2 linked regions of the Homo sapiens genome follow. The protein of the gene in region 1 purifies or fractionates together with the protein of each later gene. This does not show direct contact. Each region holds a gene or a part of one and is shown on either strand. Other genes may lie near its edges.

Region 1 (3,812 bases):
CATGCACGTTATTGAGAGGATCCAGTGAGATAATGCAAAATGTAACCCTCATTATATGGTATTTGACAGATAGGTGCTGTGTTCATTGTATGCTGTTCTAGACACTTGGGTGTCTTGATACAGCAGTGAACTAAACAGACTAAAGGCCCTAACCCTTGGCCTTTACCTTTTTAGTGAGACTTTTCATTCTTATCATCAGCATTATAACCTTCTTCAGGGATCTAGGCACTGGTGCAATGATTCCAGACGTGGGCTGAGAGTCGGGGGCCTGGGCCCCAGTATGTTGGAGATCTTAGTTTCCCTGAGTCTGGATGGGGCCTGGTATCCACAGTCAGGGAGGGACAACCTGTCTGTAGTGCCCAAGGCACTATGACTGTGAGATCTGAGCTACTTATTGTCCCCGCAGTGGTGTCAGACCTGTGCGCCACAGGGGACCATGACTGTGAGCAGGTGTGCATCAGCTCCCCCGGTTCCTACACCTGCGCCTGCCACGAGGGCTTCACTCTGAACAGCGACGGCAAGACCTGCAATGGTCAGTGGGGTGGACACAGGCTCGCCCTGGAGAGGGTGTGGAGGGGAGGTGATGGGGCCTCCCCAGGAAACCCATTCAAGCCTCCCTGCACCATACCTCTGAACCAATCTTCAAAGCAGACAGATGCCTTTTAGAGTTTGGTATCTGCAGAAGTTCTCACCTGACTTCTGTCCCTGTTTTCAACACAATGGGCGGTGGGTTTAGTGTGGTAGAAGGACTCACATAGTCTCAAAATCAAATCCTGGTGCTACCACTTCTGAGCTGTGTGATCTCACAGCTATTGGAGTTTCAGTTTCCAATACTGTACAGTGGGACCAGTCACCTTGGCTTTATAGAGGCAGTTCTGAGGGCACAATGTAATGATCCTCAGCACAGAGCTTGGTGTGTGGTGGGTGTCCAGCCGGGGAGCAGGATGGTTGACTATGTCCTTCAGCTTCAGCCCGTTGCCTTCCTGTCCTCCACAGTCTGCAGTGGTGGTGGTGGCAGCTCGGCCACTGACCTGGTCTTCCTCATTGACGGATCCAAGAGTGTGAGGCCAGAGAACTTTGAGCTGGTGAAGAAGTTCATCAGTCAGATCGTGGATACGCTGGACGTGTCAGACAAGCTGGCCCAGGTGGGGCTGGTGCAGTACTCAAGCTCTGTGCGCCAGGAGTTCCCCCTGGGTCGCTTCCACACCAAGAAGGACATCAAGGCGGCTGTGCGGAATATGTCCTACATGGAGAAGGGCACAATGACTGGGGCTGCTCTCAAGTACCTCATTGACAATTCCTTCACTGTGTCCAGTGGGGCTAGGCCCGGGGCCCAGAAGGTGGGCATTGTCTTCACTGATGGCCGGAGCCAGGACTACATTAATGATGCTGCCAAGAAGGCCAAAGACCTCGGTAGGTGTTGCCTGCCTGGACCCTGGACACCACTGATGGCCAGGGGTACACACGGGTATAGCCCAACTGTAGTTTATCTTGGTGTCGTCTGATTAGTGCCCTAAACCCAGGTGAGTTTGAATGAGGAGGATTGGTTAGTCCAATTCTCTCTTATACCAATGACAAAATTGAGGCCCCAGAAAAGTAAGTGGCTTGTTTTGATGGTCCTTTTGTAAGTGAGGCTTGGAACTTTTCCAGCTGGATATTCCCAAGAACACATCAACTATTGGAAGGCAACTCTACTTTGGAACAAGCCCGAGTCTGTTTTGTAACCTATTAAATGAGGAAAAAATAACCACCAGATGGATGATTATTAGGGTTAAATGAAGCTTGCTGTACAAAGCTTCCAGTACAGGAAGTCACTATAGGGTCTGACACAGAGCAGAACCTCAGTAAATATTGATTTTCTCATTGTCCTTGTTCCAGGCATTGTGCTTGCAATTCCAGCAGCTGCCAGCAGGAGGTGTCTGGTGTTGGCTGCCTAAGCCTTCCCCAGGAGGCTCAGCCATATGGTTGCCCATCCCCATGTCCAGCCTTACTTCTCCTGTTCCTCCTGGCAGGCTTTAAGATGTTTGCTGTGGGTGTGGGCAATGCCGTGGAGGATGAGCTGAGGGAAATAGCCTCAGAGCCTGTGGCAGAGCACTACTTCTACACGGCTGACTTCAAGACCATCAACCAGATAGGCAAGAAGTTGCAGAAGAAGATCTGTGTGGGTGAGTGAGGCCAGGGCTGGCATTGATGGGATTTGCAGGTGGGGCACTGTGGAGGTGGAGCCATCCTGGAACTGGGTGTGGGTGGGGAAAAGCAGGGGCCGAGGTGGCACCAAGAGTTGGCAGAACCAGAAGGTGGGCTGGCGCTTACAGCTCTTACTACCAGCAAACATGTTGAATGCTCGTTACGTGGCTGGCAGTGTTCTCAGTGCTCTCCGGATATTACATCATCCGATCCTATTTGGTAAGAATGTCATTAACCCCATTTTATAGATGGGATAAACAAGGCCAAAGGGGTGGAACAACTGTTAATAGCTGGGAGAGCCAAGATTTGAACCCTACTGCCTCTCTGGTCCTCTCTGGTGACCTCACCAGCTGGTTCTTAGTGGTAAGGAGTGTGGGTTTCAGAGCCAGACGTGCCTGGGCCTGTGTCTTTGCTCTGACGCTGTTGGCCATGGGCAAGTTTTTTCACTTCTTGGATTCTTCACCTGTAAGATGGGATTAATGACTTCAAACCCAAAGGGCTGAGGTGAACTCACTGAGGTGACATAGGGGCCCCTACTAGTGTTCTTCATGCAGCAGGTACAGGGATGCTCTCCTAGTTCATTCTCAGGGCTCCAAGGGACCAGGAAGACGTTCAGGGGTCACCCCTCTATCACTCCTAAGGGTGCTGTCTCAAGGACTATCTATATCTTTCTGCCTCCTCAGGTCCCTTAAGCCCCTCACCTCCCCGGGAATCCTGAGTCCTGGCCCTGGGCAGTGACTGTCCTCCCTCCTCCTGGGCAGCCACTCAACAGTTCCTTTCTCTTTCCCTCCTCCTTGTCCCCTGCAGAGGAAGACCCGTGTGCCTGCGAGTCCCTGGTGAAATTCCAAGCCAAAGTGGAGGGGCTGCTGCAGGCCCTGACCAGGAAACATATCCCTTCCCAGAGGGGGCTGGGGCTGGGGAGGGGCGCAGGCCAGTGTTGGGGGAGGCGGGGGCATGGCCCAAGTGTGGTCAGTTGGGCAGGCTTCTCTTGGCCTGCTTACTGCTGATGGGCTGCATTCTGGCAGAATAAGCTGAAGCCAGCTTGGGTGCACACCCTGTCAAAAGCAGAGACTCCTAGAAGGTAAACAAGAAAATGAGGCAGAAGCCAGGATCTAGGGACTGGACACACACCAGAGTCCTGGACATGCTCTGAAGAACATGGAGCCCATGGATGCCCCATTTCTCAGGCTCATGGTGACGTGCCTGACCCCAGTACCCACTCAGAGGTGGGGCTGGGCCCCAGACAGTTCCCCTGGCTCAGCCAGGACTAGGTGGGGAACCCAGCAGGTCTAAATCTGCAACTGAGCAGGGCTGGGCACTCGTGGCTCACAGTAACTGGCTGTGTTTTTTGGAAAGCACCATTCTGAGGACAGTGGATGGATAAGTTCTGACAGAGGGGAGAATGCACGCTGTAGTGGGGTGTTGCAGGGGCCTGAGTGCAGGGCCACAGCCATCCCTGCCCTGCTCTGGCCAACCTGCACCTCTCCTTAACTCTGAGTCCACTGGAAGCTGTGAGTAAGCGGCTGGCCATCCTGGAGAACACAGTTGTCTAAGGCTGCCTGTCACCACTGTGGCCTCTCCAAGCGTCCTGCACGTGTCCGCCGTAGCTTTACCATTTTAGTGAG
Region 2 (3,812 bases), on another chromosome or scaffold:
CCATGCCTGGCTAATATTTTAAATGTGTATTTTCTTGTTGAAGGGACAGGGTCTCTCTCTCTCTCTCTTGCCCAGGCTGGTCTCAAACTCCTGGCCACAAGTGATCCTCCTGCCTCAGCCTCCCAGAGTGCTGGGACTACAGACATGAGCCATCGCGCCCAGCTGAAAAATACTAATGAGAAACTGGTCAGCTTCCTTTTTCCAATAACTGCTATGTAACCCCATCCTTCTTTGCCTTGGCATCTAGGAAGCTCTGGGCAGAGCTGTGTGCTCAACCACAAGAGCTTCCCTGGACTGCTTTTTGACACCATCACCTCCCAGAGTCCTTTTCTCAATTACTAGGCTCTCAGCTTTCAGTTCCCCCTCTGGTTTTTGGTTTGGTTGGGGAAAGCATGGAAAGTGAAATTCAACAAACTCACAACCCAGTTGAGCTATAAAAGACCAACAGACCTTGGTTCAAAACCTAGATATGCCACCTATGCACTCTGGGATCCTGGGCACACGATTTATCACAGTCCGTCTCCGGGATGACCATGCTCACAGTGCTACGTTGGTTACATGAGACATAAACACCCAGCGCAGACACTCAACGGTTACACTCAACTCCTTTTATTTTCATTAGAATTTTCTATTATTTATTTATTTGGGGAATTTTCTATTTTTCATTTATTACTGTATATTTTGAGATGGGGGTCTCACTCTATCACCCAGGTTGGTGTGCAGTGGTCTGATCATGGCTCACTGCAGCCTCAACCTCCCTGGGCTCAGGTGATCCTCCCACCTCAGCCTCCCAAGTAGTTGGGATGACAGGTACACACCACCACACCCAGCTAATTTTTAAACACTGATGTTTAAAAACACTAATTTTTAAATAGAGATGGTGTTTTGCCATGTGGCCCAGGATGGTCTTGAATTCCTGGGCTCTAGTGATCCGTCCACCTCGGCCTCCCACAGTGCTAAGATTATAAGCATGAGCCACTGTGCCAGGCCCTAGGATTTTTAAAATAAACAAATTTATTCATGTCTTCAGCATCCAGGTAACTGATCTAGAAAGATTTAGAGTCAGAATATTCTTCTTCAATTATAAAATGATTACTGAATAAATTATCAACTACAGAAGGAACTTGAGACACAATTTTTCTTTTCTTTTTTTTTGCAGAGACAAGTGAGCATTTATTTTTGTGCCTTTCTTCCTATGTATATTTCAAGCCTTTTTCAAGGCCCCAGGAATCTCCGGATTCAATTATGTCCCCGGGCTTGGTCGACTGCTGCAGGACTCTTAGGGAGCCTTGTACAAATGCTAGAGTTACTCATTCACCAACATTAAACCCTAGGATAGAAGATGCAACAAAGCAAGACTCCTTTCTCCACAAAATGTGATTTCAGACAAGGCAGCAGCCAACGTAGAAAACGCTGGAATTTTTCCTTGGAACTGGACTGTGATGAGAGGTGCCGCCATGAACGTAAGCTACTGTCTTTTCTTTTCTTTTTTTTTTTTTTTGAGATGGAGTTTCGCTCTTGTTGCCCAGGCTGGAGGACAAAGGTCTGATCTTGGCTCACCACAACCTCCGCCTCCCGGGTTCAAGCGATTCTCCTGCCTCAGCCTCCCCAGTAGCTGGGATTACAGGCGTGTGCCACCACGCTCAGCTAATTTTTGTATTTTTAGTAGAGACGGGGTTTCTCCATGTTGGTCAGGCTGGTTTCGAACTCCCGACCTCAGGTGATCTGCCCGCCTCAGCCTCCCAAAGTGCTAGGATTATAGGCGTGAGCCACCGGGCCCGGCCAGCCACTGTCTTTCCTTTGACCCTTCCTTTACAGTTTTTGAAGATAAAGCAGGAAATAATCTTCTCTGAAGATACTTGATAAAAATTCCACCCCGCCCCCAAAAATAACACAAGCTTCCAGTTCATTGATAAAAATTTACTGTAGTTTGGCACCTGGCTCTAGTTCAGCTGGCGGATGAGCTGATTGATGCACACACCCCCAAGAAGATGGAGGTGTGCCAATCTCCTTCAGAAAGTCCACTATTTTTGGTAGCATGACAGTCCACTGAGAGGTGGAAAGGGGACAAGAACCATGAGATCTCCTGGAAATGCTTCCTTGGGAAGGCAATTTCATGAATGAGGTCTTCCAAGCAAAAGACACCAAGCTTTCCCAGGTGCTCCTCAATCACTGTGTTGTCAGAGGGATGGTCTTATTCTTGACCTTGGCTTGTCTACGTTTCAAAATGAGTTTCTGGACAGACTTCAGATTTGGAAATCCCCAGGTCACATAAGGTTACATACTATACGCTGCATTTTTAGGTTTAAGTCTTGCAATGGCTCTCCGCACCAGTAAACTCACACCATCAATCCTTTCGACGCGTACAACAAAGGCCAAGGAATGTTTATCTGGCGATTCCAAGGTGTGAGGTTTTACTTCTAGTCGTCTGAGACACACCTTGTCATGTTTCTGCCGCCAGGAATCATGTAGGAATGATTCCAGTCGTTTAAACCTGAGCTCTTTTCCTTCCCTCTGCTCCTCCTTTGCCAAAAGTGCCTACTTTGACTGGGTGGCTTTGAGGCCTTGATAAGCCTTCTGCTTTCAGGAGATTTTCTGGAGCCAAAGGGATTTTTCTTTGCTCCTGCTTTGCCATCTTTCTAGTGTTGCAGCTACTGAACATGCGCAACCCCACCACTGACACAAAATTTTATACCTGGATGGAAAACTAAAGTCCTACCAAAAGTTCCTACTGTACTTTGGAATAATCTTCAGAAGTACAGACCAGGCCAGGCGCAGTGGCTCACGCCTGTAATCCCAGCACTTCGGAAGGCCGAGGCGGGCAGACTGCTTCAGGTCAGGCATTCGAGACCAGCTGGGCAACATGGTGAAACCCCATCTGTACTAAAATTACAAAAAATTAGCCAGGCATGATGGCACACACCTATAATTCCAGCTACTCAGGAGGTTGAGGCACGAGAATTGCTTGAACCCAGGAGGCAGAGGTTGCAGTGAGCCAAGATTGCGCCACTGCACTCCAGCCTGGGCGACAGAGTGACAGGCTCTGTCTCAAAAAAAAAAAAAAAAAAAACTACAGATCAGACCCAATTTTGACATCTGAGCTCAGTCAATATGCAGGAGAAAGCTCAGCAGTAAACTTGGGGGACAGAAGCCATATTTATTCATTCATCCATTCATCCAAGTGCCTACCTTATGCCTGGCATTGTTCTATGCCCCAGCTTACACTCGCAGAAATGATAGGTTCCCTGTTCTCAACTGAATTCACCTTCTAGTCCAACCGTATTGCCACTAGGGAGGGGAGAATTAGACACCTTTTATTAAGTCACTGTTTATCCTTTATGAAAGCAGATGAAGAAGAAAACATGCAATAAGACAGTGACAGTGACCGGGCACAGTGGCTCCTGCCTATTATCCCAGCACTTTGGGAGGCTGAGCTGGGTGGACCACTTAAGGCCAGGAGTTCGAGACTGGCCTGGCCAACATGGTGAAACCCTGTCTCTACTAGAAATACAAAAATTAGCTAGGTGTGGAGGCACGTGCCTGTAGTGCCAGCTACTCGGGAGGCTGAGGCAGGAGAATCACTTGAACCTGACAGGTGGAGGTTGCAGTGAGCCAAATCGTGCCACTGCACTCCAGTCTGGGCGAAGAGAAAGGAGGGGTGACCGAAGCAGGGTTCCAAGATCAACCAGCAATGGTACCATGGACAGATCTTGGAACGTGGTAGGGAGGGGAAGAGAGGGAGAATTATGGGTCAATTACGGGTCAGCGCAGCAGGAAGTGACAAGGGGCTACAGTAAGACCACAGCAGTGGA

Evidence for each region.
Region 2: the proteins of MATN1 (region 1) and POR purify together in Homo sapiens (affinity purification with mass spectrometry; one large-scale study listed by BioGRID and IntAct). This does not show direct contact.

Annotation. Positions count from the first base shown.
Region 1 is NC_000001.11:30,713,510-30,717,321, reverse strand, and holds part of MATN1 (matrilin-1 precursor), read left to right. Parts: intron 1-406; coding exon 407-532; intron 533-996; coding exon 997-1,413; intron 1,414-2,012; coding exon 2,013-2,165; intron 2,166-2,994; coding exon 2,995-3,075; intron 3,076-3,690; coding exon 3,691-3,740; 3' UTR 3,741-3,812. UniProt on the Homo sapiens protein: A major component of the extracellular matrix of non-articular cartilage. Binds to type 2 collagens and forms long concatenated protein networks as part of the extracellular matrix.
Region 2 is NC_000007.14:75,921,578-75,925,389, reverse strand, and holds part of POR (NADPH--cytochrome P450 reductase), read right to left. Parts: intron 3,289-3,812; exon of another isoform or gene 3,190-3,288; intron 1-3,189. UniProt on the Homo sapiens protein: This enzyme is required for electron transfer from NADP to cytochrome P450 in microsomes. It can also provide electron transfer to heme oxygenase and cytochrome B5.